Linked DNA regions of Homo sapiens: regions 1, 2, 3, 4 and 6 are each linked to region 5. Evidence: fine-mapped expression QTL. A gene starts in region 5. Each other region holds a variant in brackets. All regions are shown on one strand. Distances are from middle to middle. Region 1 has its middle 8.8 kb from the start of MED10. Region 2 holds the start of LOC124900933 (a long non-coding RNA gene). Region 3 overlaps LINC02145 (long intergenic non-protein coding RNA 2145). Region 4 has its middle 2.9 kb from the start of MED10. Region 5 holds the start of LINC02145 (long intergenic non-protein coding RNA 2145). Region 6 has its middle 12 kb from the start of MED10.

Region 1 (4,947 bases), 50 kb after region 5:
AGAATAGAAAAGAACTTTCTAAACCTGATGAAAGATGTTTTATCTACTAAGAACATAGAGAAAGCATTAGACTCAATAATGAAACTTCAGGAACATGTTTGTTAAAGTCCTGGACACAGCCGGAAGCTTCACTGTCGTGTTCTAGGCCTCTCTCCCGGCTGCTGGTGGTTGCTGGCAGTGGTTGCTGTTCCTTGGCTGGCAGAAGCATCCCTCCTCTCCACCTCCAGCTTCACGCGGTGTTGTCCCTGTGTGTGTCTCTGTGGCCAAAATTTCCCCTTTTCATGAGGACGCCAGTCGGGTTGGATTAGAGCCCACCCTGATGACTGGAGTTTTTCACTGAATTACCTCTGTGAAGATGCCATCTCCAAATCAGGTTGCGTTTGGAGGCGCTGGAGGTCAGGACTCCAACATATCTTTTTTGAGGGGATATAACTCAACTGTAACACCCCTCCTTCTCTGCTCAAGACCAGCAGCACTCGTTGTCTGTATTGTGATCGCGGGATGTTTAATTCAGGACCAGGCCATAACGAGCATAATGATGGTGTTAGTCCCTGTGATTAACCATCAGCTACAGTTTCTAAAGCACTCATCTCCCAGTTGTCCACAATGACTACTCCAGTGAAGATTGTTCCCTGCTGAAACAAAAAGCATCCCAAGCCCACTTAAACCTACATTGAGACCGGGCACGGTGGCTCACGCCTGTAATCCCAGCATTTTGGGAGTCCGAGGTAGGCAGATCACGAGGTCAAGAGATCAAGACCATCCTGGCCAACATGGTGAAACCCCCGTCTCTACTAAAAATGCAAAAATTAGCTGGGTGTGGTGGCAGGTGCCTGTAATTCCAGCTACTTAAGAGGCTGAAGCAGGAGAATCGCTTGAACCCAAGAGGCGGAGGTTGCAGTGAGCCGAGATCGCGCCACTGCACTCCAGCCTGGAGACAGAGCGAGACTCCGTCTCAAAAAAAAAAATAAATAAACAAAAAGATAAACAAACAAAAAACCTACATTGAAATTCTTCCTTTTACTCAAACAGCTAAGTAATGGCTGCTTTCCCTTTATTTAGCAACATAATACTGTTGGCTTGTTTATAAGAAACGTTTTAACATTTCAACACTCCAGTCCCCAAATGTAAATGAAATTAGGTTGGAAAATTCCAGTAAGTCAGAAGGTCGGCCTGGTAGGAAGCCGTGTGCAGAAAGCCTACAGAGCATTGCTGACTATACGTTTTGTCGCCTTGTTTTCCCTCCGAAGTCGACATGAGCTGCCCCTAGGAAATTTCCTTACTTCTGATACTTGGTGACCTTGAAATCTGGAGGCTGTTTTTTCCCTTCTTCTTTACCTTTTTTTTTTTTTCATTCACACTATTATCGCTCCATCAGCATCCAAAGCCCTTAGTGGTATCATTTGGAACATGTTTTGCCATTCATTCTAATTTATTCTAAGAGCCAGATTCAGCTTAAGTTTAAAAAAAAAAAATGCAGCTCTCCTACCCAGAGGAAGGAACAGCTGGTTTCTGCTTCTCACTTTGAAGATTTTCAGCACATTAGTAGTTCTAGCAGAAGGGAAGATTTGCAACTCTGTTGTTTGATGATGATGGTGATGATGATGACGGTGATGATGGTGATGGTCATGATCATACTGATGACAATATCTGCCATTTTGGAACATATTTTATAGATTATAGACTGTCTCATTTATTCTTCATAACCCTAAAGGAAGCTACTATAATTTGAACCATATGTGGTCAAAAGAAAGCCAAAAAAGTATCCCTAAATACAGAATTAGGAGACAGAATAATTTCATCTGATAGAAAATGCTGACATTATTTTCCCTCAAGAGCTACATTGACACATGAATGTTCAAATAAATTAGGTTTCCCGTTCATTCTATTAGATTCACATACCAATGAGAGTGCCTGACTTGTGCAATAAAAAAATAGAAATTGTATCTTTTTTTACACTAACAAGCATTGAGAAGCCGTAAGATTTCTCTTCTCTTCTGTTTTCCTTTCTATGCAATATTTGCAGCAATGTGCAGCTCTACCTGGAATTCTGTGTGATGTATGTGATCAAATTTTTAAAAGCAAAAAGATGAGATTACACTAATACAGACTGGCATGTGATCCAATCAGCAAATGGAAGTATGCAGTTGGCTTTCACTATCAGCTTTGTTTTTTTGTTGTTGTTGTTGTTGTTTTGTTGTTTTTTTTTTTTTACAAATTGTCACAAGCTCAAAAGAGAGGGCAGGACAGCATTACAGAAATAGGGATAAGGTAAGACATCTAACTCCTTAGCAGATTATACACACAAGCATAGAAATACAAACTTTTCTAGGCTGCATAGCAACTTCACCCTCCTGGGTCTTTCGGCACACGGTGTAAGCCCTGTTATCTCATAGCGTTTTGTAAAAATTAATGACTTTCAGTTGAAGTCTAAGTTTGTCTTAAACACTCCAAAGAGAAATGAGCTATGCTCAATTTCTCTTCTCACATATGCTCTTCTCATTGTGGATGACCCAGAAAACAAAGTCTTACCTTGCAGAAAATCGTGGTGCACGCAGGCCTGGAACACCTGCTCCGGTTCTGATCAAGAAAGACAGATAACCAGGAGACTGTACAGCAGAAAGCATCTGAAA[A/T]AAGCAAAAAGAAAGCGCTTTTTCAGAAAACTAAGTAAGAATATATGAAAATTCTTCATTATGGAGGATGGAAGCTCAGAGGAGACAGGACCAACATCTGCACAACTTTGAACAAATACCTGGCTATTAATACGCAAGACAAGAGAACTGGGCTCACCTCCTTCACTTTCTAGAAGGTGGCTGTAGTTTCGTTAGTCCACGTCCTCTGAGGAGCAGATCCCAGGATGGGATTAAACAAGAACTTTCTTAGAAGAAATACATGTGACAGAAAAAGGGAACCAGCATGGCTGGAAGAACCATCAGAACAAAATGCAGGTCTGATCCCAAAAGAAGGGAGGGAGAGAGGGAGGGAAGGAAGGAGGGAGGGAGGGAGGAAACAAAGGGAGTCTAGAAGCATCTTAGACTGTGGTACAGTCCTAAGGAGAGTTTGGTAAGACCACTGAGAAGCCCCCAAACCAAAATCGCTCACCAGCAGAGTCCCCAGGAATGGACAAACCTTAGCCTTCCTGCATCACTCACTCAGTCATTGGCTGAGCAGCCCATGGAGGCAAAAAGTGCAATAGATTTCAAAGGAGAGCATTAGGGCCCTTGGTTAATTCTGCCCTTACCATCAGATATCTGAAAGATGCATTCTTGTGGGTGCCACATTAGGATAAGCAACAGTAATGATGATGATGATGATGATGATGATGATGATGATGATGCCATTTATTGACAACCTATCCAAAGTCAAGGATTGTACTAGGTATTTTACATATATTAAATATAATTATCAAAAACAATCCTCCCTAGGCTGGGTATGATTGCTCCCCATTTTCTCATGAAGAAATTGAAACTTGGGTAAATATTTTGCCAAGAAAGGGTGTAGAGTTGAGTATCTGATCCTTCAGGCATCATATTCTTACCACAGCAAACAAATGAGAGAATTTTTGCTTCTGCAATAAGAAATAGAGTTCGCTGAATTTATTAAGCTAAAAAGTTGAGTGTTTGGTGGGTTTTTTTGGGGGGGGGGTTGTTTTTACAATATAAATTTTTGTTTACAATATAAATAAATGCAGCATTCATTCTACTTAATTCATAAATGACAATGTTGGAAACTAGAGGGCCGGGCGCGGTGGCTCACGCCTGTAATCCCAGCACTTTGGGAGGCCGAGGCGGGCGGATCACGAGGTCAGGAGATCGAGACCATCCCGGCTAAAAAACGGTGAAACCCCGTCTCTACTAAAAAAATACAAAAAATTAGCCGGGCGTAGTGGCGGGCGCCTGTAGTCCCAGCTACTTGGGAGGCTGAGGCAGGAGAATGGCGTGAACCCGGGAGGCGGAGCTTGCAGTGAGCCGAGATCCCGCCACTGCACTCCAGCCTGGGCGACAGAGCGAGACTCCGTCTCAAAAAAAAAAAAAAAAAAAAAAAGAAACTAGAGCCATTGTACTTTCCCACCAAGGAGCTCATGACCACACTGAGCCCTCAGTGACCCCAAATGGCATTTCTTATGTCCCCCTGGCTGTCTAAAGTGGAGCTCAGGTATGGCCAGGAAGGGACGCAGCCCCAGTACTTCTTTGGTATATGACTTTGGCCCATTTCTAGAATTGTCTTGGTCTTCAGTGAGATGGAGCAGGGACTCCTCCTAGGGGCCTGCAGGTCACCCCCTGCCCAGTGAAGAAATAAAGAAAACTCTTAAGTTCCTTCAGGAAAAATTCCAGGCACCTAGCTCACACTGAAAAATAACTGAATAAACAAAAAGATAATAGTAGCTTAAAACAGTAGCCAAAAAAGTTAGTCAAGAGATATGTTATTCCCTATAAAAACTGAAAATAACACCTTAACATATGTCCCTGAGTTATTTTTCAAAAACCTGAACCCCCACCAAACAGATTTGCTAACACATAGACCTCAAATTAAGGGAAACTAAAAACTAAACTCTGGTCACTGTTCTTTGTTCTAAATTTCTTCCTAAGGGGCCTGGGAACGTCACACCCACAAGTTAGAGCTATCAGTTTGGTGCAAAAGTAATTGCAGGTTTTTTTTTTTTTTTTTTTTGCTGTTACTTTCAGTGGCAAAACGTGCAATTTTGCACCAACCTAATAACATTGTTTTCTGCTGATCCCACATTTTTAGACAAAGCTTTGCCTCCTTAGCCAATCACAGATCAGAAATCTTTAAATCCACCTATAACCTGTGGGCCCCCAACTTCCAGTTGTCCTACGTTTTTAGGTCAAACCAACGTATAGTCTCCATATTTGAATTTATGACTTTACTTGTAACCTCTGCCTCCACGTTGGTAAAAACCCTCACCTATGAGCCATCTGGGAGTTG
Region 2 (4,947 bases), 70 kb after region 5:
ATTAACTTTCCTTTATTTGACTTGCAGTGAAATTCAGTGAAGAAACAAAAGATGATGTGTCTAGAGTTTACCTGGGAAGCTTACCTCTTCTTTGGAGTGTTTTAATGGGACTATGTAGTATACATTTACATGGTGCATTTGTTCCACTAACAACTTTAAATTTTATTAATTTTAACTAGGCATGGTGGCCTCAGTAGTCCCAGCTACTCAGGAGGGAGACAGGAGGATTCTATGAGCTCAAGAGTCCGTGGCTGCAGTGAGCTATGATCACACCACTGCACTGCAGCCTGGGCAACGGAGCAAGACCCCTTCTCAAAAATAAAAAATAAAAAACTTATCAATTTTGAAATCAATGCACATCAGGATACAGAATCTCAATGAGAAATATTTGTTGGGTTTCTTTTTTTGAAATGGAGCCTCAATCTGTCGCCCAGACTGGAGTGTGCAGTGGTGTGATCTTGGCTCACTGCCACCTCCCTCCACCTCCTGGGTTCAAGTGATTCTCCTGCCTCAGCCTCCCGAGTAGCTGGGATTACAGGAGCCCCCGACCACACCTGGCTAATTTTGTATTTTTAGTAGAGATGAGGCTTCACCATGTTGGCCAGGCTGATCTCGAACTCCTGACCTCAAGTGATCCACCTACCTTGGCCTCCCAAAGTGCTGAGATTACAGGCGTGAACCACCAGGCCCAGCCTGAGAAATATTTGTTGACCAAATATTTCTCAATTCCACTTGGCACACACAAATAAAGTTCCCTTTTCAACCATCTGGCGCCTGCCATTCTCTCTGTTTTAATACAGGTGGTTTTGTAGCAGGACTGTACTAGTTGAATGTGATAACCGATCTTTTGGCTATTCCATCTGATTATTTCTGCCCAGCATTCTTAGCAAGTAACTTAATATTGGCAAAGTATTGGAAGAAAATTTCAAAATATAAGAAAAGGAGCCTTGAGAATAACAGGATCTATGGGGGGCGGGGATGTCAAATCCACGGATGTTACTTCCGAAGCCAGCAAGGCCTGCATCTCCCTGAGCAAACAGTGGGCATGCCCAGAACTGCCATCAGCCCCAACTCAAGTGCATGGTTCTCCCCTCGTTAGTGGCAGCCTTGGTGGGCCACTTTCCTCCTCTGGGCTTCTGGTCACTCACTTGCAAAATGGGGCTCTGTGACCAATGACCTGTAGGGTTTGTCCCAGTGCCAGAAGCCCATGTTTCTATGGCACAAGTGAAATAAAATTTTTCCATGGAATGTAGTTCAAAAAAAAGCCATTTGAAATGTCCCTTCTGGCTTTAGCAACAGTTTGTGTTTTTTGTTTGTTTGTTGTTGTTGTTGTTTGTTTGTTTGTTTTTTAACTGAAATCTGCACAGCTCTTTACCAATGTGCTGAATGCATTTCAGATTGTACAAAAGTTGAAAATGCTACATATCTCAGTGAGAAGCACATTAAAAATCTTTTAAAAGTGTTCATGTCAACTTCCATCTTTCATTTTCAGGGTCATATTTCATTGTGAATTGTGATGTTGACATTGAATTAGAAATACTGTTAAGTGCAAATATGCATGTACAGTTACATAATACAGGTGAATAATCTTGTTTAATTAAGTTTCATAAAATCTTGAACATGATCCATGGGCATTTGCATCAGCACTTTGAAAATTGATGGCATGACTTATTGTTGTGGCAGAAGCACTGGTGAGCAGGGATCTCTGTAATGAGCCTGATTCCTCCTTGACAGCTCCAATTTCATAGCATGGTCCATCTCAGGAGCCCTCAGAGTTGACCATGGGACAACTGGCTGCAGAAAGACACAGCTTGATCGCGTATTTTTGCTTGCACAGGCCATACCCTGTTCCTGCGGGGGGTGAGGTGCCCTAGAGGTCAAATAGCTGTGCCCCCCCACCCCCCCCACTCCTCAGCAAGGATACTCTCACAGAGGCATACCAGCTTCCGGGCTCCTGCCACCACACAATTCCAGTGGCTCCAGGAATGCCCATTCCACGCCAAAGGCTTCTCTGGAAAAACACAGGTTAAACCAAAGCCAGCTGTCATTTGGGTGGTGACCCGATTCAACATCACAACAAACAGGGCAGATCCAGGCAGGAGCTGCTGATGAGAAGAACAAAGACCTCAGGGAGCTGCGAGCCTTGTGCCAGCCTCCACGCCCTCTACCCCTTACAACACTTTCTGAACCCACATTGCTTTCAGCGTTCATAGGATTCTGTTTCAAAGAAGGTATGGGATCTGTACAGAAAAGAGCATTTACCTTAACATCAGCCCAGAAACCTTGGGAATGAGTCAGTCATCATAGGGCAGAGGGATGTGTGTCTCCAGGTGAAGAAATGAACAAAATGCATAGCACAGCCTAGCCTGACCATTCTGCCCACTCCAAGAACAAAGCAATAATGGTGGGGGAAGTGGGGAGCAGCCACACTCTGCCTCTAATAAAATGGGGAGAGGAAGTAATTAACAGATCCTGGGGATGAAATAAATAAGCCCCTCAGACACTGTAACTTCAGCTATTTGGCAGATCTTATCCAGAAGTTTTTCTGCTCTCTCATCAGGGTGGCTTCTTTGAGGATTTCCCACGATTATGTCTGAAATGCATTCCCCTCAATATTCCAATTCCAGAGCAGTCTGACTTGACAACAACAAACAAATCAGACCAGACAAGCAGTATTGATCCAGCAGGCGTGAATTCGGAGCCACCACGTTGCTTTCTTTGTGATTACAATACGATAATGGAATACCCACGGTGTCGCCAGCCCTGAGCAGCAACAAGGCACAAATCCTGCCTCGTGTCATCTGAACATCACAAACTTGCAACAAAAAGAAACGATGGCTCAGTCCTGTGCTGACCCTGCAAATGCAAT[T/A]CGAGTCTCCTTCCCTCTTCTCCTTCCAGAGATTATAGGCACAGATCTGGCCATGGGGGTGAAAAGTGCTTCTCCTCTTCTGAAGAGATTCAACAATAAATAAATATCACAAGTAAAAGCTACTGCATTAAAATATTTTAAATGAGAGAAACAAAATCCTAGGCACCCTGGACAGAGCTCAATTAATGACTTATAGACTCCAGTCCATTTTTGGTAACACTGTTGATCTTCCCATGTGAAAACCTAACAGGAAGAAAATGCATCTAAAAAAGCTGGGCTTTTTACGAGATTGTTCCCAGTACAGGTACCTGGAACAATTGATAAAAGACCTAAGGTGGATTTGCTTTGCTTTGAACCCTCACCCTCCTACGGAAGACCTAGATAGCCCTTCGAAAGGCATAAGTGCTCTGTAAAAGTACTCAAGAGTAAAGGCATAATAAACCGTGGCTGCAAGCAGGCATTTGAAAGTGACAACCGAGACCTAAGGGGGAGTTTAACAATATGTTTGTGACAGATAAGTTTGAATATGCAGGATTGGAAAGATAACATTTCTCAACTGCTTCTTTAATTATAGCCTTGAAGAGGAGGTTGTCACTTCTACCTTCATTCAGGAAACTGTCTTGTGATGTCTCCATTAATTATGACTGTCTATGTATTGCCAGGGAGCTTTCCCATTCCCTGACACCACCAAGGCCTGGCAGCAGGTCTCGGGCTGGGGCAGAGCCTCGTTTCCTGGTTAGTGGTCAGTGCAGCTCTCCAAAACAGGACTGAGGTCAGCAGATCATCTGATCAGGCTCACGTAGCTCCACCTCTTGCCTTTGGTTAGGTGCCCCATCATCTGGGGTACCACGGCCACTCCTGTAGCACTGGCCATCCAGACACCAGACACTAACATCTGTCATGTCATCACTGAACAAGAGCTCTCTGCCTTACTGATGTTTTCGTTATCTGTTGGCAAAAAAATAAATTCAGGGGACATGTGGACCCACCTCTCAAAAAAAAGCCAAATAATGTATGTGAACTTTCCCCTCCATCCGTGGAGCTTAACACCGCCCCTGCCCCATTGAGTGTGGGCTCCACTTAGTGACTCACTTCCAAAGAGCAGAGCAAAGGGAAAGTAGTAACATGACAGCGGAGGAAGCTGGCAGACACCACCCAAACCCAAAAGGTCAGGGTTATCATCCCCAGTGATGTCATGTCCATGACATGATGCAATACAAAGGAATCTTCACCTTCGTGGTATTTTTTCCAAAAATTACCCAGAAACCCAGTGTAAACAGGAGGAAAACAACAGAGAAGCAAAATGAAAGGACATTTTACAAAATGCCTTGCCAGCACTCCTCAAAAGTGTCAAGGTCAGGAAAAACAACGAGGAAGGGCTGAGAAACTGTCACAGACCACAGGAGACTAAAGAGGCATGACCAATGCTGTGGTCTGAATGTGTCCTCTCCGAAATTCAGGTGTTGAAACTTCATGGCCAATGTGATAGTATCAAGAGGTGAGGCCTTTAAGGGTTGATTAGGCCATGAGGGTTTCTCCCTTGTCAATAGGATTAAGGCCCCCATAAAGAGGCTTCGTGCAGCATTTGGCTAGCTTGCTCTTCTGCTGTTTTGCCACAGGTGGACACAGCGTCCCTCCCCTCTGGAGGATGCAGCAACAAAATGCCTCCTTGGAAGCTGAGAGCAGCCCTCACTGGACAACAGAACCTGCTGGCGCTGTGATCTTGGACTTCCCAACCTCCAGAACAGTGAGAGATACATTTCTGTTATTTATAAGCTACCCAGTCTTAGATATTCTGTTACAGCAGCACAAACAAACTAAGATTAAGCAGTGTGGGATCCTGGATGAGAAAGAGGACATAAGTAGAAAAATGAGTGAAATCCAAATGAAGTCTAGTGTTTGGATCATAGGAATGCACGAACCTTCATCTCTTAGCTGTAGCAAAAGCACGATGGTCACGTTAGATGGGAGCATGAGAGGAAGCTAGGTGAAGGATACGCGGGAATGTAGCTAGATTTAGGAGTAGGTAACTGAGGTGCTGGAGTGTGAATTTAGGAATGTGCTCACTTTTGGAACCA
Region 3 (4,947 bases), 27 kb before region 5:
ATCAATGGGGCTCAGCGCCAACATCCTGAATTCTCTCTGCTCCCTCAGAAGCAAACCCAATCACCAACAATAATGCTGACATGTGAGCCTCAGGATTAAATTGCAGGAACACTTCCGGGCAGCCTTTCTAGCAGTTGCTTGCATGCATGGAAGTCCATCCTCTGAGGCTGGCTTTAGTCTGGCTTCTCAGCCAGCACACACTTAAATCTTTCGATTTTCTCAACTGTATCTTGAGAAAGCTTTTTAGAATGGGTTTCTTTTTTACCATTACTTTTTATTCATTAAGTGTGACCAAAACCGTATGACGATAATTAGAAAATAGTGATAATGCAGTGCTGATAATCAAATAAAACATTTAAGGGAAAGGTGTTTCCAGAGTATTCTTGAAAAGACTGCTGCCTTTTTGAGATGAAAGAGATTTGGTGCCACACATTGAAAGCAAAAGTTGAATAGAATTATATTGCTAAAAGGGAAAGTGTGCTTTAAAAGAAGGCAGTCCAGTCTGTTCACTGCAGCTTTCAAACCAATTGTAGTTCAGTAGAACTTTTAATATTTGAATAGCTTATGCCAGACTCAGTTTTAGAAAGGGAAGAGTGTTTAGGGAAACACTTTAATGAGCTACTTAGAAGAAAAGGAAGGCTTTGAGAACATAAATTATCAGCAGATGCAGCACATATGAAAAGAAATTGGGGGTTGGTTTGAGAGAATAAGAGGAAGAAAGAAGGAGCTAACATGGCAGAAGTATGAGAAACAGATTGAAGAAATGGAGAGGGGCTGCTGTGAACAGAACTATCTAAAACTAAGTTTGCATAGCTACAATACTAACTCTACCATGTCTCTGAAAGTTCTGTAAAGTCTTCTACATATTTAAACTCTTAGGTGAGTGATGAATTTCATGTCAGGATCAAAGCCATGCAGATAGAGGATCATACTTGCTCACTGGAAAGATAATTGCTACAGCAGACTAAGTCAGTAGAAGCAGGATCCTGTTGGCCCAAAGGCAACCTTTAGGATGTATGCAGCTGGAGAATTTATTAAAATTTTGGTGAAAGCACTGTTATTCCATGGGGGTGAAATAAGAACTTAAACTCAATCCAGGTTTTTAGGGGGAAAAGTCATCCTAACAGATACATGGGTGAAATGATGATGATTGTGACAATGATGCTCATGATTTTTAACAACAGTGATGATGATGGTGATGGTAATGACGGCGATGATGATGGTGAGATTTAAGATGATGATTATGATGGTAATAGTGATGATGATGATAATGATCGTGATAATGGAGATTATGGTGATGATGGTGATGGTGATAATGGAGATGATGATCATGGTGATAATGGAGATGGTGATGATGACGGTAATGATGGTGATTATGACATTGATAATGGAGGTGATGGCGATGGTAATGATGATGATGGAGATGATAACAATGATGATAATAGAGGTGGTGGTGATGGTAATGATGGTGAGAATGAAGATTATGGTGATGGTGATGATGATGATGGAGATGATGACAATGGAGATGATGGTGATGATGGTGATGACAGTGGTAGTGATGATGATGACAATGATAGTGATGATGATGGTGATGATAATAATAATGAAATAGTGGTGGTGGTGGTGGTGGTGGTGGTGAACATGATAATGATTATAGCTAACATCTTTAAGTGCTTACTATATTCTACATCCATGATACCTTAATTGAGTTATTGAATTGAATCCTTACAATGTATGAGGTTAGCCTATTGCTATTGCCATTTTGTAGGTGAGAATAACAATAGACCTTGTCACCTAGTACCTAGAAAGCTTCTCTGTAAAACCCAGATTGTCCCTGAGTGTGGAGAATTGGAAGTCATCCACAAACAATGAAAGGTCAGTTCACAGTGGGAACATGGCCTTGGAAGTCGAATAGTCAATCCTGGGCATCTGATGCAAGGCCAATTGCTTGCAGACAGGGATTAGAACAGAAAACACTACTAGTGTTAAGTCAGTAATTACATGTAAGAACTGTGTAAGTACACATAGACGAAGCAAAGAAGAGGCAGAAAGAGAGAAAATGGCATAAATGGAGAGGGAGAGGTGACAAGCGGAGAGGTGTCCTGGAGCTGTTTATTCCTAAACAGGAGTAACAGGATGAAAGACCAAAGATAGCCACTGCACATCTACCTGAGTCTCTGCCCTACCCACATCTGCTCCTCATCCTTCTACCTCCCACTTTTCAATCTGTGGAGGGATCTGCCTGCAACTTTCAATAATCTAGTCCACCAATAAGGTGCCAACCACAGCAGAGTTGCCAGGCAAATGCAAGATGCCTAGTTACATCTGGATTCCAGATAAACAAAAAATAACTTTAATAAACACATCTTACACAATTTTGGGAAAAGTTCAAATGTAATTGGG[A/C]ATCCTATATTTTTATTTGTTAAATCTGGCAATGATGCCCCTTACCAAGACCATATTCTTTCTATTGTCCCACCTCCTTCTCCTGTTCATTAATCTGAGGGAGGGAAGATAAAAGCAAATTCATTGAATATTTCCACAAACTCAGATTCTCAATCATGAGGACTGGAGGAGAAAGACTGGGTCTTGGATGATGAGACCACCTCTAGCTGCCTGTGAGCAGTTCTATGGTGAAGGGTAGCACATGTGCATGGGGCCTGGAGGAGGGATGACCTGACCTTAGATAACCGTCTTTCATTCATTCATTCATTCATTCATTCATACTTCAACAGACAGCTATGAAGTACTGTTGACCCTTGAACAACGTGGATTTGAACCCTGTGGATCCACATCTATGTGAATTTTCTTCTGACTCTGCCATCCCTGGGATAGCAATACTAAGCCCTCCTTTTCTACCTCCTCTTTAGCTCACTCAACATGAAGATAATAAGGACGATGACCCTTTGATGACCCACTTCCACTTAATGAATGGTAAATATTTTTCTTTCTTACGATTTTTTATTAGCAATTTATTTTCTTTAGCTTGCCTTATTGTAAAAATACAGCGTATAACACATATAGTATACAGAATATGTGTTATCTTCTGTTTAAATTATCAGTAAGGTTCCTGGTCAACAGAGGCTATCGGTACTTAAGTTTTGGGGGAATCAAAAGTTATACTCAAATTTTCTACTGCAAGGTAGGTCTGAGTCCCTAACCTCTGCACTGTTCACAGGTCAACTGTGCTCCCTTTGTGCCAGACAGGGGATATGCTGAAAGTAACAACAAAGAAAGTCAATGACTTCGTTAGGATGCCATGGAGTGTTGAAGTCTTGACTCCAAGGACTTCAGAATGTGATCTTATTTGGAAAGAAGGTCCCAACAGAGATAATCAAGGTAAAATCAGGCCTAATGGCCTCAGGGTTTGGGCCCTAACCAATATGTCTGGTGTCCTTAAAACAAGGGGAAACGTGGGCACCATCATACACAGAGAGAAGATGATGTGACAATGCAGAGAGAAGACGGCCATGTGAAGATGGAGGATTAGAGTGCACAGTGTGGAAACAAGCCAAGGGACCTCTGTGGCCAACAGAAACTGGGAGAGGGCCAGGCGTGGTGGCTGATGCCTGTAATCCTAGCACTTTGGGAGGCCGAGGCAGGCAGATGATTTGAGGTCAGGAGTTTGAGACAAGCCTGGCCAACCTGGTGAAACCCCACCTCTACTAAAAATACAAAAATTAGCCAGGCGTGGTGTTGGGCGCCTGTAGTCACAGCTACTCAGGAGGCTAAGGCAGGAGAATCACTTGAACCCAGGAGGCGGAGGCTGCAGTGAGTCGAGATCATGCCATTGCACTCCAGCCTGGGCAACAGAGAGAGGCACAGGACAGATCCTCCCTAGAGTCTTAAGGGAGCCTTAGGGAGAGAGATGGGACAGATCCTCCCCTGAGGGCACCTTCATCTTGGACTTCTGGCCTCCAGAACTGTAGGACCCACCTAATCTATGTTTTGTCACAGTAGCCCTAGGAAATGAATACACACAGTCATCTACTCAAACCCTAAAGGTGGGAAGAATAACGACGGCTGGGCACTATGAAGGGAGGTGTGCAGTGCTACAGGTTCATATCAGAGGGTCTTTCCTGGCCAGGAGACTCAGAGACCTGCCTCTGAGGAAGCCACACTTGCATTGGGAGAGAAGCAAAGCCTGTGGGCAAATAGGCAGAGGAGCTTGGGAGCAGGAGGCCCTGGGAACCCGAGGGGGGCAGGTGATCTGTCCGCATGCAGGCTATGGACATGATTAGTGGCATGAAATCCAGGCCTTGACTCTAATGGTTAGATTTGCCCATCAGCAAAAATCTTCCCAGAGGCAATCCTATGAGGATAAGATCTGTAAATACAGGGCTGATGAGATTAAGGCAACTCCTCAAAATCTCATCAGGAAGCAAGTGATGCAGATGGAACTAATAAAAGATTAAATGCAATCTTGAAACCTGTAATGCATAATGCTGTAATTGCGGAGGCCTTTGGAGAATGATAGGAATATTTTAAACAAAGGAAGGAGAGGGAGGAGTGCATTCATGCCCTTCAGCACTGTCTGGGAGGATGGATGTCCCAATTTTAGAGGTCCCCTCCCAGGTCTTTTTCTGGAAATAGCCCCAGAGTCGAAAAGAACAATGCATCTTGCTACCACAGCACATCGGAAGCATCCCTTCAGAATATCCACTTCTCTTTGCTCCAATTTTATGCTCACTAAGCAACCTTCTGAGTTGTAATTTGGTGTTCTGACTAGGTGATTTTTTTTCCAGGCCCTGAGCCAGGACTATTCTGGGGGCCTGCGTTCAGGCTGTGCAGGGACAAGGCAGATATGAGAAGGCCAGGCTCTGACACCAGGCAGCACCACATGAGCCAGAAAAAAAGGGGGGGTTCAAGACTGGGTCAGCTCAGAAGAGCAGGGGAGTGCAATGTCCCTAGAAGACGGGTCCCTCCAGCCTGGCAGGCAGCACTGGGAGG
Region 4 (4,947 bases), 44 kb after region 5:
CTCACCTCCTCGGGCCAATTCTGACCAAACAGCACCCTGTGGGGTTGCCCTGTCTTAGTAAACTGCTGTTTATCTCATTGAAATTCAGTTTAGGTCATTTCACTCTTATGTTTAAGAAACTTTTCTGCCCGATCTCCTATGATAGCGGATATCTCCTCTAGCCTGTTTGAATTTCTCAAGTGATTTATTTTACTGAATATATTTGTGGCCTGTACTTTTCAGTGCCTAGAAACAGGCAAAGTGAGGGAGCTCCTTTGCTAGATGATCTTCAGAGCCTCTCCCAGCTGTGACCAGAAATGGAAAGCCAGAGAAGGTAAGTGACTTGCCAAACTTATGGAATCAGGGCACTCCAGTTGGTGGGCTGGGCTGATAAACAGAAATGTTACATAAAATACTTCTCTCCTGATTTAACAACAATTAACTTTAGGGAATTATAAAACAAGATGGAGGCTGGGCGTGGTGGCTCAGGCCTGTAATCCCAGAACTTTGGAAGGCCAAGGCAGGTGGATTACCTGAGGTGAGGAGTTCGAGACCGACCTGACCAATATGGAGAAACCCTGTCTCTACTAAAAATACAAAAATTAGTCAGACATGGTGGTGTGCGCCTGTAGTCCCAGCTACTTGGGAGGCTGAGACAGGAGAATTGCTTGAACCCAGGAGGCAGAGGTTGCAGTAAGCCGAGATCATGCCACTGCACTCCAGCCTGGGCAACAGAGCAAGACTCAAAAAAAAAAAAAAAAGGTGGAAATAAAATATTAGACAAATAAAAAATTTTAAGTTATTAGGTAGAGGTAGCGACATGGAGTGAACGGCCTTTCTCAATTTCATAAGTAAGAAAGATAGATAATTGATGGAACTTAGGCTTTGGTAAGTATTTATTTTAAAAATTTAAGGGTATCTCTTTGCTAGTATATATAATTCCCAAACTAGTAGACAGGGGGAAGGGAATAAAGAAAACACAATCAACTCAATAGAAGGCAAGAAAAGAAGAGAATAAAGAAGCAAAGAACAAGCATGGAAAATAAAACTCACAACGTAAAGTGCAAAAATTAAAGGCACACGACTCAACAGCAAAAAAGCAAAAGAAGAAATTTATAAATGGGCAAAGGACCTGAACAGATACTTCTCAAAAGAAGACATAAAAATGACCAGCAAAAATGCTCAGCATCACATATCATCAGGGAAATACAAATTAAAAGCATAATGAGATGTCACCTTACACTGTTAGAAGGGCTATAATCAAAAAGACCAAAGACAATGGGTGTGGGTGAAAATGTGGAGGAAAGGGAACCCTTGTACACTGTTGATGGGAATGTAAATTAGTGCAGCCTTTATGGAAAATAGAATGGAAGTTTCCCAAAACTCTAAAAACAGAATTACCATATGATCCAGCAGTCCTACTTCTGAGTATATACTGTGAACCCTGAATATCTGAGACAGTTCTCAGTTAATTTAGAAAGTTTATTTTGCCAAGGTTGAAGACACACACTCATGACACGGCCTCAGGAGGTCCTGATGACATGAGCCCAAGGTGGTCAGGGCACAGCTTGGTTTTATACATTTTAGGGAAACATGAGACATAAATCAATATGTAAGTGTAAGGTATACACTGGTTCTGTCCAGAAAGGCGGGAAAACTCAAAGCAGGGAGGGGGCTTCCAGGTCACTGGTAGGTGAAAGACAAATAGTTACATTATTTTGAGTTTCTGATTTGCCTTTCCAAAGGAGGCAATCAGATATGCACCTATCTCAGTGAGCAAAGGGATCACTTTGAATAGAATGGGAGGCAGGTTGTCCCTGAGCATTTTCCAGCATGACTTTTCCCTTTAGCTTAGTGATTTGGGGGCCCCAAAATTTATTTTCCTTTCACAATACTCAAAGGAATTGAAATCACTATGTCAAAGAGATATCTGTGTTTCCAGAAAGAGGTCCCAGTCCAGACCCCGAGAGAGTTCTTGGATCTTGTGAAAGAAGGAATTCAGGGTGAGTCCATATAGTAAAGTAAAAGCAAGTGTATTAGTAAAATAAAGGAATAAAGAATGGCTACTCCATAGGCAGAGCGGCCCGAGGGCTACTGGTTACTTGCTGTTATGGTTATTTCTTGATTGTATGCTAAGCAAGTGGTGGCTTATTTATGCCTCCCCGTTTTAGACCATTTAGGGTAACTTCCTAACAGGTCATGGCATTTGGAAACTGTCAGGGCAGTGGTGGGAGTATAGCAGTGAGAACTCTCGTTGCCATCTTGGTTTTGGTGGGGTTTAGCTGGCTTCTTTACAGCAAACTGTTTTATCAGTGAGGTGTTTATGACCTGTATTTGGTGCCGACCTCCTATCTCATCTTGTGACTTAGAATGCCTAACCATCTGGGAATGCAGCCCAGTAGGTTTGTTTCAGCCTTATTTTACCCAGCTCCTATTCAAGATGGAGTTGCTCTGCTTCAAATGCCTCTAACATCTGTACCCCATAAAAATAGACAATTATTATTTGTTAATTAAAAATAAAATTAAAAAGTGTATCATGAACTGTGTTCCCTGTCATTAAATGTGTGCCTTCCCCACTAAAAACATACGTTAGTGAACACAGTAAATGTTAACAGATTTAACATTTAATTAATTTAATTAATTAATTAATTATTTAATTTAACATTTAACTGTTAGTCTATCCTAACAGTTAAATGTTAACAGATTTAACTGTTAGG[G/A]TAGACTCTCAGATTAGAATCCAATTGGAAGTGTTTTGTTTTGTTGTTTTAATCTAGCTATGTTGCTTTTCAAAGGTACACCTAAAACAAACTTATAGACAGGTTGAAAATAAAGAGGGAGGATAGAATAATATATGGCAGGCAACCAAAAGAAAGTTGTTAATGCATATAAAAGTTAGTAAAGAAACATTAAAAAGATGCTTTTAATGGTAAAGAGAAGACTCATTAAAGATAGAATACTATTCACCTATAAGCAACTGACAACATAGTCCCATATTATCTAGCACAAAAATTGACAAAATATGAGGAAAAATTCAAAATCCATAATTATTACAGAGGATTTGGAGTACCTCTATCAGAAAACAATAAATCAAGTAGGCCAAAAAGCATATGAAGAATATGGAAGACTTAAGTAATATATTAAGAATTGTGATCTCTGAAAAACAGTGACCCCTGAAGAATAGATTGTTTCCAAGCACATTTCAAATACTTACAAAAACTTGACCATTCCCTAGACCACAAAGAAAGTTTCAGCAAACTCAGATCCTATCACATAGACCAGATTTTCTGACCTCGTAATTCCAGTAGAAATCTATGAATTTATTCATTTTCTACACATACATACACGTTCGAAAATCAAAACACACTCTAAATAATTCATGAGTTTACATACATCTGAGAATGGGCAAGACCCAATTATGTCTGTTGTCTTCGTGTGATTATTAATAGCACTCTTCCACTCACTGTCAAACATGTCCCAGTTTGGTTGATACGTTATGTGGACATCCTATTTAAAAGGAAAATTATAAAACATTTGGAATTAAATGACAAGAATTCCCTGTCAAACTTCTGCTTTACTCCTGAGGTAATAATTTGAGGGAAAACAGCCTGGAAAAAATAAACTGGAGTTTCAACTCAAAGAGTAGGATAAAAAGAATCAAAAGGGAAATCACAGGCACCAAAAAATACATAAAAAGGGGTGACAAAAGTAAAGACAGACACTGATGAAAATGAGAACTATTGCATTAGTTTTCTGTCTAGCTGCATTCGAAGCTGGAAAGATAAAAATGAAGAAAAGTTGATTGTTGAAAAGATGAGTCAAATATATATACTTCTGGCAAGTCTCATCAGAGAAGAAGAAAAGAAAGGTGCTAAAAGAGAAAAATATACAGTATTATAAATGAGTGAGGGTGAGGGTAAAACTTATATGTTCATAATTTTGAAAGCTTAGAAGATATAAACAATTTTCTAGGAAACTACCAGAAATTAACTTAAGAAAAATAAACAATTAGAATAGTTCCTAGTCTTTCAATAAACTGGCCAGTAGGCAAAAATCTCTTTCAAAGATAGGAGAGACATAAGCTCGGACAGTTTTTTATACTAATTGTTTAAAAATCAAACATTAAAGAACAAATAATTTCAAACTTACCCAGATACATTCAGAGACTAGAAAAAGAAGAAATACATCCCAGCTCATTTTGAAAGAGCAGTATAACTTTTATATGAAAATCATCAAGGACAATACAAGAAAATATAGGTCAATCTTCCTTATGAAAGTAGATACAAAAGTCTTAAGTAAGATATTATCAGAATTAGATCAGTTGTCATGCATCAGGCATCTATTGCTGTATAGCAAACCATGCCAAAACTTAGTGGCGTAAAACAACCTCAGTCCTTCATTTTACCCACAAATCTGCATTGTGGCCTGTGCATGGCGTTCACAGCTTCTCTCTGCTCCATGTCACATGGGCTGGGGTGGCTTCACTGGAGGCTGAAGGACCTGCTTTCACAATGGCTTATTCAGCGGGGCTGTGGGCTGGCGACCACACATCCCCCCCGTGTGGGTGTGTCCCTGGGATTTGGGAGCTTCCTCCCTGATGGTGGCAGGGTGCCAAGAGCACAGAGCTCAGGAGAAGCAGGTGAAAGCAGCACCACCTCTTATGACCTTGCCTGGGAAGTCCCCCGACAGCCAGGGCACATTTAGATCCCCAGGGAGGGAACATAACCTGTCTTCCCGGTGGAAGAAGTAAGAAGTCACATTGATAGAGGAGCAGGTGAGATGAGAACTTGTTGAAGCCGTGAACCCCAAGTATCTGAGACAGACAGGTCTCAGTCAATTTAGGAAGTTTATTTGCCAAAGTTAAAGACACCTGCCTGTCACACAGCCTCAGGAGGTCCTGACAACATGGGCCCAAGGGCACAGCTTGGTTTTATACATTTTAGGGAGACGTGAGACATCAGTCAATATATG
Region 5 (4,947 bases):
ACACCGTACCTCCGTGTGAACATCACACAGCAATTCATGGAAAGCGTGCACCCATTAGCAGGATGGGAGAGGCTGGAAACCAGCCCTGGCACATTCAAGATGCCCTCCTATGGGAGGAAGAATTGCAACAGCATTTTGTGCTCTGAATGCCCAGTCTATAGGAAGATGAACAGAATGTGCACTAAATATTTAGGCATCTGAGCTGTGGTAGCTCATGGCAGGAAGCCACGCTCACCTCCCAGGACCTGATTCTGCCATAATACACTGTCCCAGAACCACTATAGATCACCTCACCACTGGCTGAGGAAGACAAAGACAGGAGCTGAGTGTAGATGGGCAGCAGGCTCATCCTTGTCTCCCTTCTGCTGGCTGATGCACACCTTGTCCAGCTTGCTTAAGACACATGCTCCAACACCTGTCATTGTCAGGCATTAGATTCGTGGCCATGCCTGCTGTGCCCACCAAGCTGCCAGCACCACATGGCTGCTGCTCACTGGTGTGCGGTGTGTGCCCAGCCTGAGGGCCAGGCGAGCTCAGGACACAGACCTCCCAGTGCCAGCACATAGGAAGGCCCTGGTAGCTGGCCAGGGAGGCCTAAGCTCACTTCAGTCATCAGACACGAAGTTCCATTCTCTAAGGATATCATCTGGGAGGAGGTGAAGCCTTTCTGTCTTGAAGGTTGGGTCTACCTCCAGGTGTGAAGGAAGGACATTTCATATACAGGGGAAAGAGGTATTGGCCAAGAAATATGGAGCCCAGATTCAAAGGGGGACAGAGACCCCATCTCTTGATGGAAGGAGGGTCAAGGAATTTTAGAAACTTATTTTCCCCAAACTTCTAGAGTTGTTGACACCAGTTGTTTATTTGTCACATTGCTTATTTATTCACTTACTTATTCTTTAAAAGTTATTTTAAGCATAATTAAAGATATAATTCATCTCAGACTATTATCACGAGATTATTGTCTTATTATTACCTTCCACACTCCAAAGCCACCACCCTTGGATGACATAAATATCCAATGACTATTTATCAGAACCATAGGCATTTTTATCTACCTGTCACCTTGCAGGGTCAACATTTACAAACACGTCGTTATTACAGGAACACAGAATAAGATAATGATCTTATTATCAAGACCACAGATAATAATCGTGGCTCGTTGAAGCCCTTTGAACCCAACAGCTGTGGGCCCATCTGGAGCTAGTGGCCTTACTTCTCTAGATCAGATTTGCACACTTTGAAAACTGCAGCAGTTAGGAAGCTGCAGCATCCCACAGGGGGAAGCAGCTCAACAGCCAGAGCTGGGCTGAGAAGCGGGTATCTGGAAGCTTGCTCCTTAATGCCTCCTGAGGAAGCGCTGGGCACACACCTGGCACAGCCCACATGCAAGAGTTAGCACCACCCGCACACATAGTGCTCAGCTGTTCCTTTGGCAGCACTGTTGTTAGCAATGTGTGACCGCATTGGGAGGGGGTCTGAGTACCATGGAGGTGACTGAGATGCTCTGTACCTCTGTTACTTAGCACAGTGCAGGGCAGGAAGCAGGAAACTCAACAGATGTCTATTCAATGATTGATGGGCAGCTGCCAAGCAACTTCCAGAGTAGGGGGTCCCATGATGCAGATCCCTCCTCCCCACCCACTCCATGTCAGCCTTATTTCAGGCCTCACAACATCCCACTTGAAATATTAACTGAGCTCTTGGCCTCAGTCATCGTGTTCTCCTGTCACCACTGCACCATCTCAAAGTGGCCCTTCCTACCCCACTAGGCTTCCCACTGCCCCGCACACAGCCAAAGCCCTGCCCTCACAGCCTGGCCCTCCAGATGTCTGCAGCCTGGGCCCCATCTGTCTTCAGACTTCGCTTCCCATAAAGTTTCCTCATCTGGCTTTTGGTTTTGTTTCACAAATAAGCCACACACACATGCACACACAAAGAGGTACATGCACACACAAAGAGGTACATGCACACATGTGCAAACATCTGTGACCACAGACCCAGATGCCAGCACACACGTGCACACACACTCATGCTTCCAGGTGCAAATACACATACATACACACACACACACACACACACACCAGCTCCATACTTTAAACCTCTTTCCCCTGTATATGAAATGTCCTTCCTTCACACCTGGAGGTAGACCCAACCTTCAAGACAGAAAGGCTCCACCTCCTCCCAGATGATCTTCTTCCCAAGTTGCAATTGAGTTCTCCCTCCCCATTTCTCTATACAGCGGCAACAGACTCACCATCACGATACCATTGCCGTCTTCTCTCAATGCAGGTGCCGTCCATGCTGTGAGTCCCTGGAGAGCAGCAGGGATACTTTTTACAGCTTTTTCGATGCTCACTTACGGCCCCCAGCAGAGAGCACCTCAGCAGGTGCTCCAAGAACGATGTTGCCTTGGAAAGGTAGCGAGGCCCTGAAACACAGAGAATAAGGGCAAAGTCTGGGCTGCTCTCAGAGCCTCAGGGCCCTGCCACCCCAAAGTCCTAGGACAGGGAGCGTGTCCTCTAACTTTTCTCTCTCCCTGCACTTTATCTCCACCAGGAATTCTCAACCTTTTTTGTTCTAATAGAGCTCTCTTCAACCGCCTGAAAAAGTTCCTAATCCTTTTATAAAATATTGTCTTAAAATGCACATAATAGGCTGGGCACAGTGGCTCCTGCCTGTAATCCCAACACTATGGGAAGCCGAGGCAGGTGGATCACTTGATGTCAGGAATTCGAGACCAGCCTGGCCAATATGGTGAAACCCCGTCTCTACTAAAAATACAAAAATAAGCCAGGCATGGTGGTGCACGCCTGTAATCCCAGCTACTCAGGAGGCTGAGGCAAGGAGAATCACTTGAACCAGGGAGGCGGAGGTTGCAGTGAGCGGAGATCATGCCATTGAACTCCAGCCTGGGCAACAGAGTGAGACTCCATCTCAAAAAAAAAAAAAAAAGAAATGCACAAAATAAATATTACAAAGGGCCTGAGTGATGCTGAAATCCAGCTCTGCGTTCACACTTGAGTTGGGGGATGGCAGGTTCCCCAGCACCGTGTGCTCCCAGGTTCCCAGCAAATGTGAGCTCACTCTCCCTGGAGCCCTTGCCCTGGGTCCTGATCACCAGCCCCCTCTGGTTGATCTTCCCTCAGGTAGGAAGTAGCCCTGAGGAGGGGGAGCACAGAGGAGTTGTGGGCAGGGGTGCAGAAGGAGAAAATATGTTGAGGACAACAGCATCAGAGGCCAAAGGCAGACTCTGGCTGCTGGTCTGCACAGACCACCATCTATGGGTTGCAGAATCTGGGTGGACACGTAAGGAGAGGAGGGAAAAGAGAGAGAAAAAAAAAACTGTCACAGGCAAGCACAAAGAGTAGCTGCCCTCAATTAGGGCTAGTAAAGAATTGTTCCCACTGCACGGGGTTTTCCAACTGCAATCTTTGGGCTTGTGAAGCATTTTCTCTGCATCTGTTGTTGATGCCATTAAGTAGAATGAGTCACTGTATATATTAAGCACTAAGACCAGCAGCGACATAAGTCTATGAATTCAATGATCATGCCAGCTTTAAGTAGAAAAGGAGCTTTTTTTTTTTTATTAAACCAGTGGCAAAGCAGAGGAAATCAAGTAATTTTTACATTATAAGATTTTTGCTTTTTTTTATACTGTGTCTATTTCCTTTTAATGACAGTTATCAAAAGTCACTTTTGGGAAAAGGCTTTGAAATTGAATAGAAAAATCTCATGCATTTACTTTTCCTGTTTTTCTGAAATTCAAATAAGATGTGAGCGACAGGCGCTGAGTGCTCCAGCCCCCATGCTCAGCAATCGCAAGCTTTCTTCAGACCTCTCTTTGCAAGCTCGGGAGGAGACCAGAGAGGTTCCTTAGGAGGATCCCTGGCTGGAATCTAGGCCAGGAAGCCAACAGCAAAATGTGTTTGGGGTGAGCATCTGTGTTTGGGGCCTTCTGGCATGGTAACACTCTGACCTGGGGTGTTCGACATCACTTGTGCTCTCAGCACAGCTTCCAGAACAAGCCAATGGCCCCAACAAAGGACAAAGGGTCCAGAACCATGTGACCAGAAAAGGAAGACAGCCAGGTGTATTTGACAGCTCCCAGAATGACCTGGCCAGACACTCAGAAGGCCACGGAAGCTTCGCTCAGGCATGCTGCCAGTGTGTGTTTATGTCCCAAACCCTCACACAGCATTTGCTACCTGACTGGCCTTTGGCAAAGGGCTTTAGAGATGTTCCCCCAAGTCCCACATGGCACAGAGGGCAGGTGCGCATGCTGTGACAATTTCACAGGTGAGGAAAGGGAGGCCCAGGGAGCTTACAGAGCTCATGAGAGGTGCAGCCAGGATGTGAGCCCAGCCAGCTGGCCCCACAGCCTGTGCCCATGTGTGACAGGTGCCCCTCTGCCCCTTTCGTGGGGTCACATTGCCTAGTTGCATCAGAAACTTAACCCAACCTTACAGCTTGGTGTGTGGGTGGGCAGTGGAGGGTGGTGCAGGCGGCATCTCCTTACCTCTGATGCAGCATCCACCAGAAAAGCTGCAGAGAGTGTGGAAGGCAGAACAGTACTTCCAAAAAAAAACTAAAAACATCCAAGTCCTGATCTCCAGACCTGTGCCTATGTTAGGTAACGTGGCAAGGCGACACTGAGGTTGCAGATGGAATCAGCAGGCCTTGAAAGAGGGCACTTGTCCTGGATGGTCTTCATGTCCTCAGTGTAATCACAAAACTCCTCAAAAGTGAAAAGAGGGTCAGGGTCAGAGGAAGATATGACTATGGAGAAAGGCACAGAGAAACGCACACTGCCAGCTCTGAAGACAGAAGGGTCCACAAGCCACTAGCCGAGGAAAGCAGGAGCCTCTAGAAGCTGGGAAAGGCAAGGACCAGATATTCCCCTGGAGCTACAGAAGGGACCCGCCCTATCGACACCTCCACTTTAAC
Region 6 (4,947 bases), 30 kb after region 5:
TAACTAACCTGCACAATGCGCACATGTACCCTAAAACTTAAAGTATAATAAATAAATAAATAAATAAATAAATAAAAATAAAAATAAAAATAAATAAAGTCACATTCTGAGGTTTCAGGTGGACACGATTCACGATTTTGGGGGAAGAACCATTCAACCCAGTCCAGGCTCCCATGTGCAAACTTCCCCAATTGCCCTGCCTTATCCCTAAGTCCCTAAAAGACTGGATGACTACACACACACACACACACACACACACACACACACACACACAGATGCATGCACATGGAGCTTGTAAGTACATACATATGGATACACACATATGTGTGTATATATATTGTCATATTGAAATGAATTAGCTCTATTACTTAGAGGCTGCCTTCTAAACAGAACCGGGAATCTGGGACTGGAGCAGGAACCAAAACAGGGTTCCTTGAGGTCCCTGCTCCTAATGCAGCTCTTTGGCAGCTGGAAGAAATGGCATCTTCCATGCAGGGGTTACTGATCACCTTGGCACCTGCATTCCCACTCACACTCTGCCTGAACAACCATCCCAATACATTCCACTGCTCGCCCCAACCAGCAATGAGTACAGCCCCAGTGGTTTCAGGGTGTGACGTGCTCAGAGCTCCTGCAAGCTGAAGGTGAGACCAGCACACACAGCACGGCCCACCTAGTATCGCGCAGCACGAGGCAAGTCACCTTCCCCATCTCCCTCAGTACCCCCTGCCCTCCACCTCTAGCACATTCTCTCTGATGGAATGACCAAAGGCAGTCTGAGCAGCAGACGCCTCCTCCCAGCAAAATCCAGGCTGCAGTTGGCCTACTGCATGTGTGACCCCGGAGATGTCCCTTCCCTGTTCGGGACCCTGGCTCCCCTCTGTGAGTGGAATGGGTCTGGGGATAAACGAGGTACCATCCCTCAAACCTGCGCACAGTGCCCGATCCAGAGTCAGTGATCAACACCTCTTACTGTGGAACAGCTCCAGGGTCTCTCCACAGAGTTGGAGATGCTGGTCTTGGGCTCCCGAGGACAATGGCAGCTGGCACTGCCCTCTGCAGTGGCGCCATCGAAGCTGCTACATCTGCCTCCAGAGCCAAGCCCTGTGATGAGGCCAAGCCTCAAACGGCAGGATCATCGGGGCAACCGCAGGGACACTGTCTAGCAGACCTGGGCTTTGACAGGGCTCCAGAGAGGGATGGAGGAGCTGGGTCCCCAGCTGTGTCCACCCAGGTAAGGGAACACCCCCAGATGGGTCAGCTTGGGCACCTCAAACCACGTAGACTTCATGACTGTTTTGGAGGAATCTTTTTTTAAGTCTCAGCTTCAGCATTTGAGTACACATGGTGCGTGCAAGCCTTCCAGTATCAAAGTGGATGGAGCACAGGGCTGTGAGTCACAGGATGCTGCTGGACACCCAGCCCCTCCCTGACCAGCCACACGCCCATGGCCAGTCAGCCAGCCCCTGAAAGGCTGGGTTTATGTTGATACTAAAAAGTTGCTATTGAGTTTATTCAAAATAATAATGTTCTGCCTACAAAACACCTGGCTTAGCAATCAGCTTGGTGATGCAACCGCTATGCCATTCGGCCTGCTTGTAAGCAGGGTATTCATACTTCAGAGGGCTCTAGTCTCCAAAAACCAGTGAGAACGATGCCATCTGCATCTGTGCCAACACGGCAGTGTGGTGATGCTTCAGGTCTGTGTACGATAAATCACTGCAGCTAGACAGTCCTCAAATTAGAACTGGCCTCCTCTATCTTTCCAATGTGTTTAAAATTACACGGGCACGTGCATCCCAACTCTGTGTTTGCCGTGCACTTACCAAAAACAAACAGCCCAGTATGTGTGTGGCTTTGAAACTGTATGTGTATAAATGACAAGCTGGAGCTTCTGTCTGTGTCTTCCGTGGAGAACCTGTACTTACCAGCTCAGGAAGGGGGCACTGACCTCCACCTGGGAAATGAGGAAGTTCAAGTCTTCCTCTGGCAGAGCGTCCTCAGGGGCTTCCTGCCACACTGCTGGGGACACAGAAATTCTCCCCATGCCTCCTGCCGGCAGCGACCTATGCACACACCTCTCCTGCCCCATGGCCTGGTGGTCCCACACACTGCAGCCCGTCCTACCCTCAGAGGATCTGCACTCCCG[C/A]AGTTCTGCTGAAGCGCGTGTATGCCAGGGCCATCTGCAAAAATTCTGGCTTTCTCAGCTGTGTGACTCCCACTGCCACCCACAGTATTTCTTCCTTATCACCAAGTCATGTCATTTGTTTTCTTTTTGTGTCATTTAGTTATTTTTCTTCCAAAAACACAGAAGAGAATCTTTTGGTACAAAGAAGAAGACAAACACTGCTGCTGGTTCTTTAAACACCCAGACTTACTTGTGTTATAGAATTTGAGGCCAAATGCATACATCAGTTTGCTCATTCGTTTAACAATTGATATGTACCCATTACGTCTCAGTCACTGTGATAAGTCCAGGGTATAGTAGTGGACGAGGCTGGTGTGGTCCAGACTCTTAAGGAGATGACAGTCTTGAAGGTCAGATACTTCCTCTGTAACTCTGAGAGCTACCTTTGATACTTATTGGATGTCAAAGGAGAGTTTGACAAACAGACCAGCACTGGTCTGAGGTGTCAGAGAAGGTGAGATAACAGAAATGACTTTTACACTGCAACCTGAAAGATGCGCACAGGTGAGCCAGGAAAGAGGTGAGTTATGTGGAGGTGTGGTGGACTGAGAGGATGAAATACGAGTATGACTGGAGTGAAAATAAATAAATAAAAGCAAGGAAATGGGGTATTTAGGAGACTTAGTGATGGCAATGATACCAGGGCAGGGGAAGAGGGAGGGACAGAAAGGAGGCAAAGATGATATGACCAGCTGAAAGTTCATGCCACTTTCTGAGGCAGACACAGAGGGAGACTTGGGTAGGAAACGTATCTGTGTAATTTTAGAGACACTGAGTTGGAGGTTCCTGGGGAATAGCAGAGGGGGAAAAAAATGGAAGTTGGGTTACAGAAGTGTAGGACTCATTTAGGCTGGGCTATAAACCTGGAATCTCAGCACAGGATGGTAACCGGTGCCAGGGAATAGATGAGCTTGTCCAGGGAGAGGGTGGGTAAGGAAAGATGCCTCGAGGAACCCAAACCTGAACCTCTGCTGGAGCATGCTGTTTAGAAGTCAAGGAAAGAGAGGGCTCTCCGGAAGCTGTGCTGGTTGGAATGGGGTCTGGATTCAGCATTTTAATAAGCTCCTTGGTGGTTCTGCCACGAGTAGGCAGAAGTCTGCCTTGGAGAAACTCATTCAGATGGAGCTTGGACAAGGCCGACCCTCAGCTAATGTTGACTGAATCAACGTGTTTTGTAATTATGTATTTGTCCGTCTTTCTGTATCAATACATACAGATCTTCATTCCTTCATTCATGTTAGTCATAGCACAGTTATCCAGCAAATGGATAAAGCACGATTTATCTAAGCCATTATTAATGGACATTCAAGTTATTGCTTGAATATAATGTAAAATTTATATAATGTAAAATTTATATAATGTAAAAATTAACACCTGCCTATTCTTCTGCTGGGTTTTCTTATTTGTGAAAGAGCTCTGCATAGTAGTCATGAAGTTCCTTGTGATATGTATAATAAGTATTACAACTGGGCTCAGTGGCTCACACTTATAATCTCAGCATTTTGGGAGGCCAAGGAGGGAGGACCACTTGAGGCCAGGAGATTGAGACTAGCCTGGGCAATATAGTGAAACCTGATCTTTACAAATGAAAATAAAAAACATTAGCTGGGCATGGTAGTGCACACCTATAGTCCCAGCTACTCAGGAGGCTGAGGTGGGAGGATCCCTTGAGCCCAGGAATTTAAGATTACAGTGAGCTATGATTGTGCCACTGCACTCCAACCTGGGCCAGAGTGAGTCCCTGTCTCTATTTTTAAAAAAAAAAAAAAAAAAAAGAACTTTCTTAGCTTTTTTGCCTTTTGAGTTTATGGTGTTTTTAGCCTTATGTTATTTATTTTTTTCTAACAGCTATACAGCCAAATGTATCGATCTTTTCCTTTGTAACTTCTTAGGTTTGTGATACATTTAAAAAGTTTAAGAAGTGGTACACCTGCCACCTAACGTCACCTGAGTCTTGACAGAACCAAGGACTGTATATTGTCGAACTCCCTTGGGGCAATGGCACCTCTGTCACTTGGACAGATGGGTCACTTCTGTGCAGGTGAGTGGCAGGAAACACAGCAGGCTCACCTGGCTATACAGGGTAAACATGTGACCTCGTTTGTAGCCAGCACCTGTATTGTCACTGACTGTAGAAATATTTTAATGAGGCACTCATATATATTTGATAGGATTCAAAAAATGGAAATAAAAAAAGAACACAGAAAACTGATAAACTACTCAGTGACATTACTGATACTCCCCAAAGATGAGCGCTTCCCCTTGTACCTAACACCTGGTTATTTCAGGACTTGAGCACAATAGAGACAGATGGTATCACAATCCTAATCAAGTGTAACTCCAACAGCTCAACTTCCAGGAATTTACCCTAAATAACAATTGAACAAGTGGAAGATGTATGGTCAAAGATAATAACTTCATATTAGTGAAGAACTGGGAAGCACACAGGTACCCAATGGGAGCTGATAAACTAAGCCCAGGAGAGCCACAGTCTTGTGACGTGGCAGGCACAGGCCCAGCTCTCCCATTCGTTAGCTGGGTGACCTGAGCAGGCGCCTCAGGTCCCTCATCTGTAAACCTCACCGATTTACTGTGGGAATTGAGGCAATGCATGGAAAGTGCTTAACCTGTGTCCAGCATGTAAATAACAACACATCTGCTGTTAGCACATTAATGGAACGCTAAATATTAAAATTATGTGAGAGGAAGTTTGAGTTGCCCAGATTTCATGGCATCCTGTTAAAAGAATAAAGGTTACC

The links. PIP is the estimated chance that this variant, and not a neighbour inherited with it, causes the effect.
Region 1: its variant is fine-mapped to the expression of LINC02145 in spleen (GTEx, PIP 0.93).
Region 2: its variant is fine-mapped to the expression of LINC02145 in esophagus muscle (GTEx, PIP 0.96).
Region 3: its variant is fine-mapped to the expression of LINC02145 in thyroid (GTEx, PIP 0.95).
Region 4: its variant is fine-mapped to the expression of LINC02145 in tibial nerve (GTEx, PIP above 0.99). The same link has a PIP of 0.9 or more in sun-exposed skin and visceral fat.
Region 6: its variant is fine-mapped to the expression of LINC02145 in whole blood (TOPMed, PIP above 0.99).

The regions. Positions count from the first base shown.
Region 1 is chr5:6,384,862-6,389,808 of GRCh38, forward strand. No RefSeq gene overlaps it. Among named protein-coding and RNA genes, the nearest start is that of MED10, 8.8 kb to the left of the region's middle. The variant A/T (reference allele first, on the strand shown) is at 2,634.
Region 2 is chr5:6,404,712-6,409,658 of GRCh38, forward strand. LOC124900933 (a long non-coding RNA gene) reads left to right here and starts at 4,489. Exons shown (of 2, transcript XR_007058678.1): 1 at 4,489-4,616. RefSeq lists enhancers at 3,470-4,669, 3,865-4,159. The variant T/A (reference allele first, on the strand shown) is at 2,870.
Region 3 is chr5:6,307,498-6,312,444 of GRCh38, forward strand. It overlaps LINC02145 (long intergenic non-protein coding RNA 2145), which reads right to left. Exons shown (of 2, transcript NR_028351.1): 2 at 2,944-4,947. Among named protein-coding and RNA genes, the nearest start is that of LINC02145, 27 kb to the right of the region's middle. The variant A/C (reference allele first, on the strand shown) is at 2,404.
Region 4 is chr5:6,379,008-6,383,954 of GRCh38, forward strand. No RefSeq gene overlaps it. Among named protein-coding and RNA genes, the nearest start is that of MED10, 2.9 kb to the left of the region's middle. The variant G/A (reference allele first, on the strand shown) is at 2,697.
Region 5 is chr5:6,334,893-6,339,839 of GRCh38, forward strand. LINC02145 (long intergenic non-protein coding RNA 2145) reads right to left here and starts at 2,400. Exons shown (of 2, transcript NR_028351.1): 1 at 2,258-2,400.
Region 6 is chr5:6,364,417-6,369,363 of GRCh38, forward strand. No RefSeq gene overlaps it. Among named protein-coding and RNA genes, the nearest start is that of MED10, 12 kb to the right of the region's middle. RefSeq lists a silencer at 3,001-3,168. The variant C/A (reference allele first, on the strand shown) is at 2,150.